2 linked regions of the Homo sapiens genome follow. The protein of the gene in region 2 binds, or shares a complex with, the protein of the main gene of each other region. Each region holds a gene or a part of one and is shown on either strand. Other genes may lie near its edges.

Region 1 (9,273 bases), on a different chromosome or scaffold from region 2:
TTGCTGGGGGAGCTTCTGGTCCTGGGGGTACCCACTTGTGAGGGAGTGGGGGGACAGCTGGAATAGCGTTGCTCAGTGCGTCCTTTGGGCGCTGTTGGGGACACCCGGCTCTATGTTGGACCCTGTAGCACTACAGAGCGGAGGGTCCCCTTCCCCCCAATGGGCCCCCCGCCAGTCTGCTCTCTCCAAACTCTAACCCTGTAGAGGTTGAGTTCTACAGGGGCTGGAGGATGCCATGCAGGGAGAGGGGGTCGGCTGGGCCTGGCTGGGTCCAGCCAAGAGCAGCAGCAGCCTCCCTTGGGGGGAAAACAGGGAAGGCCTTGTGGCCCTAGGCGGAATTGTAGTAGTTGTGTGCGTGGTGGTTGTGGGCGGGCTCACCCAGCTCTGGGTACTCGGGAGTCAGACAGTACTTGGGGTCGTAGACCTGGCGTGGCAGCCCATACACCGTCATGCCCCGCTGCGAGGCGCCCTTGTTGCTGCCCATCTGCAGGCTGACATTGAGCGTGTCGCAGTGCTCCATGCCCAGCCCCGGCTCGAAGATCTGCCGCTTGGTCCCTGGCGCAGTCATGCCAGCCTGCGAAGGGTGGTGTGGTCAGGCCGTGGGGTGGCCAGGGTCCTGGGCCTTGACGGCGTGTCCCGGGGGCCCCCACTCACCTGGCTGGCTCCTTTGTTGGTGCCCATCTGCAGGCTGATGGTCGCCTGGTCCAGAGGCTGGTCTGTGCCCAGCTTGGGGTCGTAGAGGTGGCGCCGGGTGCCATAGGCCGTCATGCCCTGCTGGCTGGCAAACTTGTTGGTGCCCATCTAGGAAGCCAGAAGGAGAATCACACCAATAATTACAGACCTCATCATGGGCCATGAGGCATAGCTGATGGGAGAGGATGAGGCGCCGCTTTATCATTTTTTTCAATTTTTATTTTATTTTATTTATTTTTTTTTGAGACGGAGTCTTGCTCTGTTGCCCAGGCTGGAGTGCAGTGACATGATCTCAGCTCACTGAAATCTCCATCTTGCACATTCAAGCAATTCTCCTGCCTCAGCCTCCGGAGTAGCTGGGATCACAGGTGGGCATCACCATGCCCGGATAATTTTTTGTATTTTTAGTAGAAATGGGGTTTCACCATGTTGGCCACGCTGGTCTCGAACTCCTGACCTCAGGTGATCCACCCACCTCACCCTCCCAAAGTGCTGGGATTACAGGGGTGAGCCACTGTGCCTGGCCCATTTTTTAGTTTATTTTTATATTTTATTTTGTTCTATTCTATTTTTTTGTTTTATTTTATTTTATTTGAGATAGCATCTCACTCTGTCGCCCAGGTTGGAGTGCAGCGGCACAATCTTGGCCCACTGCAACCTCTGCCTCCTGAGTTCAAGCAATTCTCCTGCCTCAGCCTCCTGAGTAGCTGGGACTACAGGTGTGCCCCACCACACCGGCTAGTTTTTGTATTTTTGGTAGTGACAGGGTTTCACCACGTTGGCCAGGCTGGCCTTGAACTCTTGACTTTAAGTGATCCGCCTGCCTCGGCCTCCCGAAGTGCTAGGATTACTGGCATGAGCCACCATACCCAGCCCATTTTCATTTTTAGAGACAGGGTCTCACTCTGTCGCCCAGGCTGGAGTCCAGTGATGCAATCATTGTAACCTTGAACTCCTGGGCTCAAGTGATTCTCCCACTTCAGCCTCCTAAGTAGCTGGGACCACAGGCAGACACCACTGCATTTGGCTAAACTCTTAAATTTGTTGTAGAGATGGCGGTGGAGGGGGGTTCTATTTTGCCCAGGCTGGTCTGAAACACCTGACCTCAAGCAATCCTCCTGCCTCAGCCTCCCCAAGTGCTGGAATTACAGGTGTGAGCCACTGCACCCCGCCTGAGGCATCCTTTCGAGACTGGAAACTGAGGCCCAGAGTGGGCCTATCACATGACTGACTTCTAGCATTGAAGTTCCAGCCTGCCACGCATCAGCTGGAAGATCTGTGCAAAAGCGAGCCAGCTTCTCCGGGTCTCAGTTTTCTCATCTGCGGAAAGGGTATGTTGATAACAAGCACCTGTCTGCTGGGGTGTTGGCAGAGTGAGTGAGTTTGTGAATGGAAGATGAGCATAAGCACAGTACCCGGCCTATAGTATAGTTAATGCCAAATATCCTGTCCCCAAAAGCCTTCAGACATCAGGGTGCCCTCCTGGCCTCTATGACCTCTGCGCAGTGAGGACAGGGCGGTACCTGCAGCCCAATGATGTTCCGCCCTTCTCTTAGCTTCCCCGGCTCGAATTTCCGCTCCTGCTTCTCTGCGTACTTCACTCCCACGTTCACCTTGTTTCCTTTCGTCTTCGCCTAGGTGGGGCAGGGAAAGCAGGGACTGACAAGGGGGCCTCCAGGCTGCACAGTCCCCTTGGACACTGTTTTTTTGTTGTTGTTGACACAGAGTCTCGCTCTGTTGCCCAGGCTGGAGTGCAGTGGCGTGATCTCAGCTCACTGCAAGCTCCGCCTCCCGGCTTCACACCATTCTCCTGCATCAGTCTCCCTAGTAGCTGGGACTACAAGCGCCTGCCACCATGCCCGGCTAATTTTGTTTTGTAGTTTTAGTAGAGACAGGGTTTCACCATGTTAGCCAGGATGGTCTCAATCTCCTGACCTTGTGATCCACCTGTCTCGGCCTCCCAAAGTGCTGGGATTACAGGCGTGAGCCACCGTGCCCGGCCAACACTGTTTTTTGTTTTTTGTTTTTTTTTTTTTGAGACGGAGTCTTGGCTCTGTCACCCAGGCTGGGCAGTGGCACGATCTCGGCTCACTGCAGACTCCGCCTCCCGGGTTCAAGCGATTCTCCTGCCTCAGCCTCCTGAGTAGCTGGGATTACAGGCATGCGTCACCACGTCCAGCTAATTTTTGTATTTTTAGTAGAGACGGGATTTCACCATGTTGGCCAGACTGGTCTCAAACTCCCGGCCTCAAGCAATCCGCTCACCTTGGCCTCCCAAAGTGCTGGGATTACAGGTGTGAGCGACCGCGCCCGGCCCCCTTGGACGCTGTTGACAGCACCTGCTCCCCGATCCCTGCCCCCCGCTCCGCCACCTTCACTGGGCTCAGGAGCACAAGTGGCCACACCTGCATCCCAGCCCAGGCTGCCCACCACCCCCTGCCCAGCCTGCAACCACACTCACCATGCTGGCCAAAGCCAGGAGGGTGGACTGCACCTGTGTATGGTTGGTGTTCTCAAACAGGTCGTTGGCCTCAAAAATGTCGTGGGGCTTCACCCCATACTTGGTGATGGCCTTGATGAAGTTGCCGATGTTCTCCAGCTAGAGGGGGGCAGGTGGTGGTCACTGGGTGGGGAGGGGAGGTCTGAGGGGCTTGCGGGCAAGGATGGAAGAGATTGTGTCTGGGCTCACCTGGTGCCAATTTTGGGTTGACTCATTGATCTTCTTCACGGAGCCTGGCTGCAGCTTATTGATGAATCTGAGAAGAGTGGGGAAGGGGTAAGAAAGGTGTCCCCCCAGGGTTGGGCACGGTGGCTCACGCCTGTAATCCCAGCACTTTGGGAGGCCAAGGCGGGTGGATCACGAGGTCAGGAGAGCGAGACTATCCTGGCCAACATGGTGAAACCCCATCTCTACTAAAAATACAAAAATTAGCCAGGCGTGGTGGCACATGCCTGTACTCCCAGCTACTCAGGAGGCTGAGGCAATCACTTGAACCCAGGAGGCGGAGGTTGCAGTGAGCTGAGATTGCAGCACTGCATTCCAGCTTGGGGACAGAGCGAGACTCCGTCTCAAAAAAAAAAAAAAAAGAAAGAAAGGTGTCCCCCACTCCCGCTCTCCAGCCCAGCCCAGCAGGAGGAGGGTGACGGGATGACCACAAGGGGCCATGCCATACCCTAGCGTCACTTCTCCCTGCAGTCAGCTCTCAGCTGCAGCCCCTCCAAACCACCCAAGCACACACACAAATGGGACACTGATGCCAAGGAGCTAGACTCAGGTCCCAGTCAGAAAGCCTGCTTATCCAAGGTGTGTCCGAGTCTCTGGGATCTCCGAAGCCTCACTGGCAGGCGTGTCTCAGCATCCTTTTCTCTTGTAGACAGCAGGAAGCCCACAAGGGCCTCTTCTCTGACTCACTCCTTTAATGATCTCGCCTCTTTTTTCTTTTCTTTTCTTTTTTTTTTCTTTTTGATGCAGGGTGTGGCTTTGTCGCCCAGGCTGGAGAGCAGTGGTGCAATCACAGCTCACTGCAGCCTCAACTTCCCAGGCTCCAGCGATCCTCCCACCTCAGCCTTCCGAGTAGCTGGGATCACAGGTGCGCACCACCATGCCTGGCTTTTTTTTTTTTTTTTTTTTTGGTAGAGAGGGGGTTTCACTGTATTTGTATTGCCCAAGCTGGTCTTGAACTCCTGGGCTCAAGCGATCCTCCTGCCTCAGCCTCCCAAAGCGCTGGGATTACAGGCATGAGTGACAGCACCTGGCCTCATTCAGTGTCTTGACTTTAAGTGCCTCCATATGCCAGCAACTCCCTCATCTCCCTGCAGCTTGGGTTTCTTACCATCTCATTCAGCTCTCTCCATGGGTGCCTGGGTGTCTCAAATCAAACTCACCCTGCTCCAGACTCCTGACATGCAGCTTCCCCCTCCAGACTCCCCCCTCCCTCCACCTTCCCTGCCTAGCAGTGCCCCCTTCTAGGTGCTCAGCCAGAGCCCTTGGACTTGCCCCCAACTCCCCCTTTCTCCTTCTCTCAGCCTCATGTCCAGTCCCTCCAAAGTTCTTTGGCTCTGCCTTTTAATGAGTCCAGAAAACCACCCACTGCTCCCCGCCACCTCCACCTGGGTCTCAGCCACCAGAGTCTGTTTCCTGGCCTCTTGTAATGAGCTCCCAACTTCCACTTCATCCCCTACAGACCCACCCTTCTTCATCCAGCAGCCAGAATTTTTTTTTTTTTTTCCGAGATGGAGTCTTGCTCTGTCACTCAGGCTGGAAGGCAGTGGCGGGATCTCGGCTCACTGCAACCTCTGTCTCCTGGGTTCAAGCAATTCTCCTGCCTCAGCCTCCTAAGTAGTTGGGATTACAGGTGCCTGCTACCATGCCCAGCTAAATTTTGTGTATTTTTAGTAGAGACGCGGTTTCACCATGTTGGTCAGGTTGGTTTCGAACTCCTGACCTCAAGTGATATGCCCACCTCAGCCTCCCAAAGTGCTGGGATTACAGGCATGAGCCACTGCCCCTGGCCCAGAATGGCCTTTTTTAAACAGTTCAAGTTACCGTCCAGTTCCAAATCCTCCAGGAGCCTCCCATTGCCTTCAGAATGAAATCCTAAGTCCTCTGCCTAAAATGCCCTCTGTAGAACTGGGCACAGTGGCTCACACCTGTAATCCCAGTGCTTTGGGAAGCCGAGACAGGAGGATGGCTTGAGCCTAGGAGTTTCAGATCAGCCTGGGCAACATGGTGAGACCCGTGTCTCTACAAAAAAAAAAAAAAAAAAAACCCGAAAACTTCACCGGGCGTGGTGATGTGTGCCTGTAGTTCCAGCTACTGAGGAGGCTGGGGCTGAAGAGGCTGGGGTGGGAGGATCAGTTGAGCCTAGGAAGTCGAGGCTGTAGTGAGCTATGATTGCACCGCTGTACTCCAGCCCGGGCACCAGAGCAAGACTCTGTCTCTAAATAAATAAATGAAATAAAATGCCCTCCACCATCTGACTCTCAGTTCACTCTGCGACTTCATCTCCACTTCTGCTCAATCATTTGGTGCTCGTCACGCCAGCCTCCTTCTTGTTTCTTGAACACCCCAAGCACGATCCTACCTCACGCCTTTGCACTGGTGGCCCCCTCTGCTTTGCCTCAGGTCCCCTGAGCCCTCCCTCACTTCATCTAAGGTTCTGTTCAAATGTCACCTCTTCAGAGAGGCCTCCCAGACCACTCTCTAGGAAACTGCAGACTCTCCACCCGCAGACATATACCTGACCCTCCCATCTTCCCTTCCGCTTGAGTTTTCCCCAGGACACTTACGACCACAAATCTGTGATTATTTGATCAATTATATGATTGATCTCCTCAACTGGACTAAAAGTCCTTGAGCTCTGAGTCGAGTCTGTTCTGTTCACTGTTCCCAGTGCCTAGGCCAGAGCCTGGCACACAGCAGGAACTCATAAATGCTTCTTTTGTGAATGAATGAATGAATGAATGAGTGAATGACCGGAGTGCGTGGGTGACTGCACTACACTCTTTTTTTTTTTCTTATACTTTAACTTCTGGGGTACATGTGCACTATGTGCAGGTTTGATACATAGGTATACATGTGCCATTTTGGTTTGCTGCACCCATCAACTCGTCATTTACATTAGGTCTTTTTTTTTTTTTTTTTTTTTGAGACGGAGTCTCGCTCTGTCACCCAAGCTGGAGTGCAGTGGTGGGATCTCGGCTCACTGCAAGCTCCGCCTCCCGGGTTCACGCTATTCTCCTGCCTCAGCCTCCCGAGTAGCTGGGACTACAAGCGCCTGCCACCACGCCCGGCTAATTTTTTGTATTTTTTTTAGTAGAGACAGGGTTTCACCGTGTTAGCCAGGATGGTCTTGATCTCCTGACCTCGTGATCCGCCTGCCTCAGCCTCCCAAAGTGCTGGGATTACAGACGTGAGTCACCGCGCCCGGCCCACTCTTTTATTATTATTATTATTATTATTATTATACTTTAAGTTCTAGGGTACACATGCACAACGTGCAGGTTTGATACATAGGTATACATGTGCCATGTTGGTTTGCTGCACCCATCAACTTGTCGTTTACATTAGTTTTTTTTTTTTTGAGACAGGGTTTCACTGTTGCCCAGGCTGGAGTGCAGTGGCGCGATCATAGCTCACTGCAGCCTTGACCTCCAGGGCTCAAGCGATCCTCCCACCTCAGCCTTCCGAGTAGCTGGGACCACAGGCGCATGCCACCATGCCAAGCTAATTAAAACAAAAATGTTTTGTAGAGATGGAATCTGGCTATGTTGCCCAGGCTGGGACTGCACTGTTTGACGTCTGAGCAGTCCTCTGCCTGAGCTGGGACACCAGCATGCCTACCTCCCCACCTGCCAATTCCTTGTTCCTAGTGGATGGGAATGGAACAAGGTAAACACCCCCCACACCCCTTCTTCCCAGCATCTAGGACTTGATGAAGCTGCACCTTCAAAGTCTTCCCGAGGCCACTCACAGTCACTCTGCCCTGGGTCAGACTCAAATGCAGATCGGGCGCAGGCTGGGTTTAGGGCCCTGCTATGCATTAAGATTGCAGTGGAGCCGGGCGCGGTGGCTCACGCCTATAATCCCAGCACTTTGGGAGGCCGAGGTGGGTGGATCACAAGGTCAGGGGTTCGAGACCAGCCTGACCAACATGGTGAAACCCCGTCTCTACTAAAAATACAAAAATTAGCTGGGCGTGGTGGCGGGCACCTGTAATCCCAGCTACTCAGGAGGCTGAGGCAGGAGAATTGCTTGAACCTGGGAGGCAGAGCTTGCAGTGAGCCAAGATCATGCCACTGCACTCCAGCCTGGGTCACAAAGCAAGATTCCATCTGAAAAAAAAAAAAAAGATTGCAGTGGAACTGGGGCTTGGGAGCTGTTAGGGTTTTCACCTCCCTCAGCAATGAGGTTTTGAGGCGAGGAGAAAACCAGGGCCGGCAGGGTGCAGTGGTTCATGCCTGTAATGCCAGCACTTTGTGAGACTAAGGCGGGTGGATCACTTGAGGTCAGGAGTTCGAGACCAGCCAGGCCAACATGGCAAAATCCCGTCTCTACTAAAAATACAAAAGTTATCCGGGCAAGGTGGTGGGCACCTGTAATCCCAGCTGCTCAGGAGGCTGAGACACAAGAATCACTTGAACCCGGAAAGCAGAGGTTGCAGTGAGCTGAGATCATGTCACTGCACTCCAGCCCGGGTGACAGAGGAAGACTCCATCTCAAAAAAAAGAAGAAGAAGAAGAAGGTCGGGCGAGGTGGCTCATGCCTGTAATCCCAGCAATTTGGGAGGCCGAGGCAGGTGGATCACTTGAGGTCAGGAGTTTGAGACCAGCCCGGTCAACATGGTGAAACACTGTCTCTACTAAAAAAAAAAAAAAAAAATACAAAAATTAGCCAGGCGTGGTGGCATGTGCCTGCAATCCCAGCACTTTGGGAGGCCAAGGCAGGTGGATCACTTGAAGTCAGGAGTTCAAGACCAGCCTAGTCAACATGGTGAAACTCCATCTCTACTGAAAAAAAAAAAAAAAAAACAAAAATTAACCGGGCATGGTGGCACGTGCCTGTAATCCCAGCACTTTGGGAGGCTGAGGTAGGTGGATCAATTGAGGTCAGGAGTTCGTAACCATCCTGGCCAACATGGTGAAACCCCATCTCTACTTTAAAAAAATACAAAAATTAGCCAGGCATGGTGGTGCGTGCCTGTAATCCCAGCTATTGGGGAGGCTGAGGCAGGAGAATCACTTAAACCCTGGAGGCGGAGGTTGCAGTGAGCCGAGATTGTGTCTCTGCACTGCAGCCTGGGCAACAGAACAAGACTGTATCTCAAAAAAACAAAAAGAAAACAGAAAGAAAACCAGGGCCTCCTTTAATTATTGCTGCACATCTCTCCTCACATCACCAAGCCAGCCATGAACAGCTGTTGGCTGCTGCCTTTTAGCTGTGACCGCTCTTTCTGGGGACTCTGGCGGCCACAGATGGGCCTACCCTATATAGCATGGTGGTTAAGATTCTAGAGTCATTTCCCTTGAAACCACGTGGGACTTGGTGCAATGCATTTCACCTGAGCCTCAGTTTTCTGTGCCTGTTAAATGGGCACAATGATTACTGGCCACCCCAAAGGTATCCAATAGAAAGTGTTCAACTCAGTTCCAGGATCATGGTTGTTTTGGGGGTTGAGGGGCTGCATGGAGTTGGGGGATGTTGCAGGGTCTCGGCTTCGAGAGCCTCACTCACTCGCAAAGAATGATGCCATCTTTGAGGCCGTCCATGAAGTTGTTGCCGATGCGACGGCCTGTCACCCCCTCGATCCACTCTCTCAGCTCCTGCTCCCGCTGGTGGTCATACTTCTGGGCCAGCTGGGGCGAGGGGAGGGCAGGGGGCACAGAGAAAGGGGTGAGGATGCATTGGGGGCAGCCTGGGCTCCCTGGGTCCTGTCTGAACTTCCTAGAGCCTGATCTCCCTCGTCCTTCCCAACTAAGGCAATTTTGCCCCAGATCCATAGTTGGGGGATGGGGGCTGGGGCGGGCTGAGAGCCAGGGCTGAGGTGGCACCTGCCCAGGGGGCCATTCCGGGCATTCTGA
Region 2 (9,273 bases):
CAACGTTGCTCATTCTCCATTCCCCCCGCCGCAACACACATACACACACAAAAATAAACCTACTCGCTTTTTCAGACATGTCTGCTAAATAACCTTTTCCCCAACCAGGTACAATATCTACAAAGTTATTTCTCAAAAAAAGATGCCCGCACTGACATTTGGTCTCATGGCTTCTATTCTTCAAGGCCAAAGTAAGAGAAGCCAACCAAAAGCTCAATATTTCCAAGGCAAAGAGCTGCAGATTTGGTGAGTGGAGGGCATTTAGCTAAAACTCTTTAATTTACGGGTAGAAAAAACAAACCTGAGGCCTAGTGATTTCTTGGAGGTCACACAGCTGATGAGTGCCCAAAGATAGACCACAGGGCTCCAGATACCAAGGCCAGTGTTTTTTGGTTTTGGGAGGGGGCGAGAGGGGGAGGGTGCTTATTTTGTTAAAAAGTTGAAGTCAGTCCCAGCCTGAAGAGACACCCCTCTGCCCACATAGCCCAAACCTCAAAAAACCAGCAAATGAAGTTAGGTCAATATCCTCAGAGAGAGACAAAAGTCTCACCAAGCCAGAAAAATTCACTCAAGGACAGGGTTTCTTAACCGGTTCACTACTGACATTCTAGGGCAGAGAGGTCTCCGTTGCGTGTGTGTGTGGTGGGGCAGGGGAGTGGGGGGCTATCCTGTGCACCATAGGATCTGTTCACAAAATGCCAGTAGCACCCCACCCCTGCCTGCCAGATAGAACAACCAAAAATATCTCCAGACGATACCAAATGTCCCCTGGAGGACACAAATCACTCTCCCTGTCCCCATTGAGACCACTGCTCTAGGACATAGATAGGTTTTGCTTTGTTTTTTTATCTGTAACGCCTTCTGCAAACATTTGTTTTTAGACAACTCGGCAGCAATGACCCGAAGCAGGTATTTTTATTTTTACACCTATTCTACAGAAGAGGAAACAGATGCACAGATGTTCCATGTTTTGCCCCTTACCCAAGAAGCAGTCAACACTCGGTACTGCGGAGTCCCCATCCTGTGGCTCACCAGGGCAATACCAATATGACCTGAAAGCAGCTTGGTTTCACTACCTGATTTTTCCACTCCCTTTTATGAATACTCAACAGTTTCCCAAGACAAATGTCCTGCAGAGATTTGTACTGAACAACACCTCAAAAGCTATCAAAAGGAAATGCTTAATATCTCTACATGGTCCTCACGTCACCCTCTGCAATAAAGGGCTTTTCTTTTTTTCTTTTTATTGAGATGGAGTCTCACTCTGCCCCCCAGGCTGGAGTGCAGTGGTGCGATCTCAGCTCACTGCAACCTCCACCTCCTGAATTCAAGCAATTCTCCTGCCTCAGCCTCCCAAGTAGCTGGGACTACAGGTGCCCACCATCATGCCCAGCTAATTTTTTTTGTAATTTTAGTAGAGATGGGGTTTCACCATGTTGGCCAGGCTGGTCTCAAACTCCTGACCTCAGGTGACCCACCCACCTTGGCATCCCAAAGTGCTAGGATTACAGGCGTGAGCCACGATGCCTGGCTGTAAGGCTTTTCAAAGAAAGATGCCAGTTCAAGAAATATTTAATCAGGAGAGGGGTACAGGGGCCAGGCGCAGTGGATCACGCCTGTAATCCCAGCACTTCGGGAGGCCAAGGTGGGCAGGTCATGAGGTCAAGAGATCGAGACAATCCTGGCCAACATGGTGAAATCCCATCTCTACTAAAAATATAAAAATTAGCTAGGCATGGTGGCACATGCCTGTAGACCCAGCTACTCAGGAGGCTGAGGCAGGAGAATCGCTTGAACCTGGCAGGCGGAGGTTGCAGTGAGCTGAGATCAGGCCACTGCACTCCAGCCTGGTGACAGAGCGAGATTCCTTCTCAAAAAAAAAAAAAGGAGAGAGGGGTACAAAAAATTAGTTTTTCCAAGCAGCCTTCAAAGGGAGAAAAAACATATATACAAATTACTTATTGTGTAAGCACTTCCTGTGTGCCAGGTATTCTTATGAGTTAAAAAAACACAAAAGGCCCAAAAGGAAAATAGGTTTTAGGGCCCTGGAGTTTCAAATGACAGATTTTCAAGTATCATAAAAAACTTCCCGGAGGAGGAAGCGTTTGGGCTGGGCCCTAAGGAATAGAAGGATCTGGCGAGGTGGACAGACGGGGGTGGGGAGGGACACATGAGGTACAACATACACACACACGACAAGGCAAACAAATGAATGTCCGTCGTCTGGGTGTCGTATCAGCTTTTTCTGTTCAGAAATATGTGCTTGGGATGCTTTTAAGCTGTTCTTGCAAAAGAAAATCATTTCCCAGACAAAGCTCCTTCTGAAATGCAAAAGAACAGCAAGAAACTTGGAGACTAGTGATATTTTTCTTATGTTCATCTTCTTCTGATAAGCCGCATTATATCAAGCCATCCAGAAGTTCTGCTGATGGGACAGGTCAGAAAGTATGATAAAACATAAGTTCCTCATTGTCCCATGACAGCAGGTGAACAGCAGTGACTTCACAACTCTAAGTAGGGGTACATGTGCCTTCTGGTCTCTTTCTGCCTTCATGTGAACAGCGAATAAAAGCTCCCCCAAATGTAAGCATCAAAGTTCCCATGTTTGTTGGAGAGGGAATCATGTGAAAACTACTTACTCTCACCTCAGGTTGGTGATTAGCCTACCTTTCCACTTCACTGAAAATAAGGCTGCAGGGGAAAAGTACAAAGGTCAGCTTCAGCCTGAACAGGTGAGAGCTAGCCATGAAAAAGCAAAGGAACCACTAAATGACAAGGACTGAAAAAGCACAGGGACAGGCATCCTCCAATGCATATCTTCTCGTATTTTCACGTGTGTGTGAATCACTTGAGGATCTTGCAAAAATGTAGGTTCTCATTCATTGAATGTGGAGTAGGGTCTGAGAGTCTGCAATTGCTAGCAAGTTCCCAGTTAATGTCAGTAACGCTGGTCTGGGGACCACACTTGGAGTGGCAAAGATGTAGTACAGTGTTTCTCAAACTTTTGACTGCAGCTCAGAGTAAGAAAACTATTGAACTTACAACCCAATGTTCATTGTGTATGTGAGACAAAGAATTTTGTTGCAACATACACAGTTCTTTTTAAGTATCCACGAAATACACTTCCATGTTTTCTATTCTAGTGCATGTCATTAAAAAAAAAAAAAGTTTGGCTGGGCCCGGTGACTCACACCTCCAGTCCCAGCACTTTGGGAGGCCAAGGCGAGAGGATCGTTTGAGCCTAGAAGTTCAAGGCCAACCTGGACAATACAGGGAGACCCAATCTCTACAAAAAAAAATTTTTTTTTTAAATTAGCCAGGAGTGGTGGGGCACGCTGGTGGTCCCAACTACTCAGGAGACCGAGGTGAGAGGATCGCTTGTGCCTGGGAGGTTGAGGCTGCAGTGAGCCAACATCATGTCACTGTACTCCAGCCTTGGCAACAGAGCAAGACCCTGTTTCAAAAACTAAAAATAAAAAGTTCATCAAGGCCCACTAAATTGATTTAACAACCTCTTAGTGGGTTTCCACAGAGTTTGAAAAACACGGATACAGAACAAGAGTAACATTCCTGCTCATCTGGGGAGAACAATGATGTCTTAGCCTCAGGACACTAAGGCTAAACCCAAAACCAATTTTTAAAAAAAGTTTAGATTATATTCAGAATTCTTTGCAAAAAGGCAAGGATAGGTCAATTGCATTTTGGAAATACTTTCACCTAGGAAATTCAAGTTTTAAGTTTTCTTCATTTTAATTTGTCTTCTCGTCTGTAAGATGAGGATGACAAGAGTACCTACTTGGCCCTAGGTGGAGATCTCTAAATACCATTTTGGCCAGGCATGATGGTCTCACGCCTGTAATCCCAACACTTTGGGAGGTCAAGGTGAGAACACTGCTTGAGCCTAGGTGTTTGAGAGCATCCTGGACAACATGGCGAGATCCCGTCCCTACAAAAAAACAAAAAAGATTAGCCAGGTGTGGTGGTGAATGCCCATAGTCCCAGCTACTCAGGAGGATTAGGTGAGAGGGTAGCTTGAGCCCAAGAGGCAGAAGTTGCAGTGAGCTGAAATCATGCCACTGCACTCCAGCCTGGGCAGCAGAGTAAGACTCTGTCTCAAAAAAACAAAACAAACAAAATTTCCCTCTTAAAAGAGCAAAGGCTCCTTGGAGAAAAGGCCGATTCTTGGTCTGGGATAAGAAATAGAGAAGATGAGCCTGGAACATCTTGTTATACAGAAATCAAAAAAGCTAGCAAAGACAACAAGGGCTGTGTCGAAATCTCAGGAACTTTACCAGCCCATTTCTCACTGACGAGAGAACTAATGGATTCAGGTAGTGAGCATCAAGGGGTGCTCATATAACAAGAGTAGACATCCAACATCTCACACCCACCTAAGCAAAGTTTACAGAGCAGACTTACTGGAGTCCCAGCTACTGGGAAGGCTGGCACAGGAAGACTGCTTGAGACCAGGAGTCCAAGGCCAGCCGAGGCAACATAGTGAGACCCCTTCTCAATTTAAAAAAGAAAAGAACCTAACTTTGATGAAGCCTCTACATCTAACTACCAAATTATGGTACCCCAAGGGGATACAGAAACATGTTAAACCACATTGCACTGATGCAGTCAGCAAAGTCTAAACTGTGGAGACGTGTATCACCCAGTTTCTTCGATAACAACAAAAAAAATGCATGGAAAAAAGATCTGTAGAGGAAATACAGAGATTAGTGAACATCAACCATTTGTAATGTATTTACCTTATTTGGATCCTAATTCAAACTGTTAAATACGTGTATGTGTAAAATTATTATATTATGTATTTTTTACAAATATCTATTTATATATGTATATATATCAGGGAAGTATAAACCTAGACTCAATAAAAATGAAAGGCCATCAAAGGGGTAGGCACATTTAGAAAAATGAGACACAGATGTCTGTTTATTAAAAAGATGTTCAAGATGTACAAAAGGTAATTTACCAAATGAGAGATACTGTGTTAGTCCCTTTTTATGAAATTTAAATATATACGTAAATTTTACATATGCATACTTAGAGGAAAAGCCTGAAACCCTAATCTCTAATAGTTGAATTGTTTTGTTTTGTTTCATTGCTCCTCTTTATTTCCTAATGTTGCACTACAATGAATATGCTATCTTTTTCTCCTTAAAAAAATTTTTTTAACAGAGATGGGGTCTTGCTGGAGTACAGTAGCTATCACAGATGCAATCATAGTATATTACAGCCTCAAACCCCCGGGCTCAAGTAATTCTCCTGCCTCCGTCCCCTGAGTAGCCGAGTCCAAGGTGTGTGCTACATGAATATGTATATCTTATGTAATAAGTAACAAAATTTGAGGTTTGCTTTAAGTTTGCACATGTGCAGGGGTCCACTTCACTTATTAAGGAGAATCACTGATGTGAAGCTTCTAATTCCTCAAGGATGCTGGAGAGCAGAATATTAGTCCTCCTTGTAAATATCTCTTAAAACGACACTGGATACAACGCAGGGTGGCGGTAAGACATAGGTTTGTGTTGAAACTCCAGGATTATCATTATGTTCTTACAATTTGCTCTCCAAGTCAACTGTACGTTCACCTATTTGTCAAACTTTCCTTTTCTACTGAAGTGAATTACAACTCCAGGTAAGTCCTGTCATTAACCAGACAGTCCAGAAATCTGGGTTTTACCCCCTATCGAGTTCCCATCTGGTATGTGATCCTGCCAACCTTACCAGAGTCTCTTCAGAAAGGACAATGTAGTTTTGTGATGTTGAAAACCACACTGAGAATTCCGTGAGAGTTTACAAGTCCTCAGATAAACCACTGTTGACCTGCAAAATCTGGTCCCTACAGGTCTGGACCTTGACTCCCTCTCCCTCCTGAACTCCTAGCACTCTCCCCTGGCCTTCTTCTCCTTCCTCCAACATGTCACAAACACTCCTATCTCAGGGCCTCTGTACTTGCTGCTCTGACATTTGGAACACACTTTTTCCCTGACAGCTACAGGGTCAACTCGTTTGCCTCCTTCAGATCTGTGCTGAGATGTCATGTAGTAAAGATCTAATCCCCACCTGAGTACTCCCTTAATACCCCTCATCATGTTTTGTTGCTTTTTAAAATTACTGTAAAATATACATAACATAAAATATACCACTTTGAAATGTTATAACTCAGTGGCACTAAGTACATTCACACTGTTGTGTGACATCACCACCATCCATTTCCAGAACTTTTTCATCTTTCCAAACTGAAACTCTATCCTCAATAAACACTAACTCCCCCTTCCTGTCTTCTATCTCCCCCAGCAATCCCCATTCTACTTTCTGTCTGCAGGGATCTGACTACTCTAGATGCCTCTATAAGAAAAATCATAAAATATGTGTCCTTTTATTTCTGGCTTGTTTCACTTAGCATGTTTTCAAGGTTCATCCACATTGTAGCATGTGTCAGAATTCCCTTTTTAAGGCTGAATAATATTCCATTGTATGTATATTTCACATTTTATCTGTTCATTCATCAGTAGACTTGTGTTGTTTCTACCTTTTGGCTACTGTGATAATGCTTCTACTGACACAGGTGTACAAATATCTGCTCACGTCCCTACTTTCAATTTTTTAAAGTATATACCTTGAAGTGGAATTGCTGGGACATATAGTAATTTTATGTTTAATTTTTTTTAGTAACTGCCATGCTGTTTTCCACAGCAGCTTCACCATTTTACATTCCCACCGGCAATGCACAAGGGATCTAATTTCTCCACTTGTTATTTTCTGTTCCCCCTTTAACCAGTTTTCTTTTTCTCCATAGCTTTTACTACCTCTAATACTATAATACTTACTTGTTTATTTATATTGGCTGCCTCCCACCAACTGAGATGTAAGCCTCTTGGGAACGGGATGGTTTGTTCATTGCTATATCCTGAGCACCTGGAATACATCTTAGTACATAGCAGGTGCTCAAGAAATTTGTTGAATAAAGAATAAAACATTTGAATCGCACACAACTTGAACAGGTCTTAGAGTCTGTTAAATAGATTTACCACACCATGTGCCTTAAACTACATCCAATTTAGAAATCTCAAAGTTGAATGGGTGACGGTTTCAGTGGTGTATCTGGCTTATTCTCATTAGCAATCATCTCAGAACCACAGAAACCAAGAGAATTGTAAGGAATCATAGAAGTTATGTCATTCACATCACCGACTTCAAGCCTTAATTGCATTCATCAATTGAGCTATGCACAAACTTAAAACAGCAAAAATGGAAAAAAAAAAAACTGCATGGACTTCTGGTTAACAGACAGCCTGCAAATGCAATGTGTTTTATTTTTAAAAATCAAACCAATAGTAAACAAGATAGACACTGGCCCTGTGGAGACTCCTTAATTAGATGTAGCCAAAGACAGCTTGACCTAGAAACCTAACTCCAGGCCTACTTTTATTTTGGCTGTTTTTTTCTGTTGTTCATATTTGGTGTTTGTTTTATTTTTGTTTGTTTTCTAAGAGCTGCTCATGAAGAAATCAGACAGTTTCCATGATATCTTTATAAATGAGTTGAAAAGCCATGTGATATTCCCCCCTCTGGAAGTCAGTTGGTTGCACACCATTGGATTAAAGGTTTCTTTTTTATCTTTCTCTCTGCCCACTCTCCTCCCTCCCCGCAATACCAACACCCTGATCTTCCTCACTTAAAAATATTTTGAAGAAAAGACTCTTGATCTTTCTGTGGAGTTCATCTATCTCTTTTTTTCTAAGCAACCATTCCACTTCTCATTCCTAAAGAAAAGATGCCAATTCCCTCCAAAAGACAATCACTTGGTTTAAATAGATACCATTGTCAACCCCAAATGACTTTCATGGGTCTCAAGGCAAGAGCCAGAGTAATTCACTTAGAACATGAAGAACTTTCCCTGCCTGATAAGAATGATATCTTGAAAGGATTTTCTGTTCTGATTTGAATTATTCAAAGAGCAGATTGTACTTTCAGTGTACATATGCATACACACACACACACACACACATGAACTTGAAAGAAAAAATGGAGAACAAAAACGTCTGCACAACTGGCTGCAAAGCAAACTGGAAGGTATATGAAAAGGTATCAACATTTCACATTGCAGTCTAACTGCAGTTTAAACTTTCGAATTATTCAGATGGGGAAACGCCTGATCCTTTTAACCTACTCAGATTCTTTGATGTAAACAATCAAGATGTATTTCAGCTAGGAGGTGAGCCTAATGCTTAACTTACATAATGTTCCTTGTGGTTTTGTTTCTTTTTACTCTCCCCATTCAGGCTTTCCAAAATGAACTCATTACAGTATCTAATACCTCCTCAAATATCTGCACTCTTTTATCCCTATGTTTGTGGCTACATCCTTTCCTTCTTACATCAATGTTATGTATTATTTCATCATTGGTGGGAGGTATGCAAGTTATTTCATCAGTAGCAGTAAGTTTACCATTTTTCCTAGCTTCCCTCTCACCACCAGCATCCCCAAATCAACTGAGGTCCATTTGTGGGATGCAGTACAGCCTCACCGCCTGAGGTTACACCCTGCTCCTACTTTGTACTAGCTACTGGGCAAGTGATTTCACTCTCTGCACCTCAGTTTCTTCACCTGCATCTGACGCACAGGGTTTCTGAGATACATGGCTCTGGACCTGGCTTACAAGTACTTAATGTGTCCATCTTATTATTTTTAGCAACCAGTTAGAAAAGAGTCTGTGGACCAGTTTTTCCTTGCTGTACAGCTAATTCTGAAAAGGGGAACTGGGCCTAATCCTTGGCTCTATGAGCACCCACACAGCCATGTGAGTCAACAGAACTCCAAGAAGAAACTAGAGTTCTCACATCCAAATGCTTCTCACTCCGCCAGTACTCCTGAGGATCTTATCAACAGGAAACAAAAGCACTATACCACTATAATGAAGTGTCTGACTTTTATTTTCTCATTAGAAAAGCCCAAAGATTGTAGCCCAGGGAACAGCTAAATATTTAGAATGTTAAAAAAGTTATTAAGACCCAGCCACCCACCCCCACCTACCTCTGTTACCCTGTTATTTACCATGTTCCTGAACATTTCAGGAGAAAAAACTCCTGATAGCCAAATCTGCAGCAATAGTGATGTACGTGCACCCGTTGAAACCTCCCACTCTTCAAATGCAGTCTGACCATTTTGGGGAAAAAATAGGAACTGTTGTGTTTACAGATAAATGCTGCTCTCAGCTCATATTCCACCACGGGCCCCAAAACAACAGGGACCTGCCAGATTCCT

The links.
Region 1: ITPR1 (region 2) and CNN1 share a complex: the UniProt entries of both Homo sapiens proteins name them as parts of the cGMP kinase signaling complex.

The regions. Positions count from the first base shown.
Region 1 is NC_000019.10:11,540,851-11,550,123, reverse strand, and holds part of CNN1 (calponin-1), read right to left. Parts: intron 9,049-9,273; coding exon 8,927-9,048; intron 3,450-8,926; coding exon 3,383-3,449; intron 3,293-3,382; coding exon 3,155-3,292; intron 2,328-3,154; coding exon 2,217-2,327; intron 802-2,216; coding exon 655-801; intron 575-654; coding exon 329-574; 3' UTR 1-328. UniProt on the Homo sapiens protein: Thin filament-associated protein that is implicated in the regulation and modulation of smooth muscle contraction. It is capable of binding to actin, calmodulin and tropomyosin. The interaction of calponin with actin inhibits the actomyosin Mg-ATPase activity.
Region 2 is NC_000003.12:4,495,060-4,504,332, reverse strand, and holds part of ITPR1 (inositol 1,4,5-trisphosphate-gated calcium channel ITPR1), read right to left. Parts: intron 1-9,273. UniProt on the Homo sapiens protein: Inositol 1,4,5-trisphosphate-gated calcium channel that, upon inositol 1,4,5-trisphosphate binding, mediates calcium release from the endoplasmic reticulum (ER).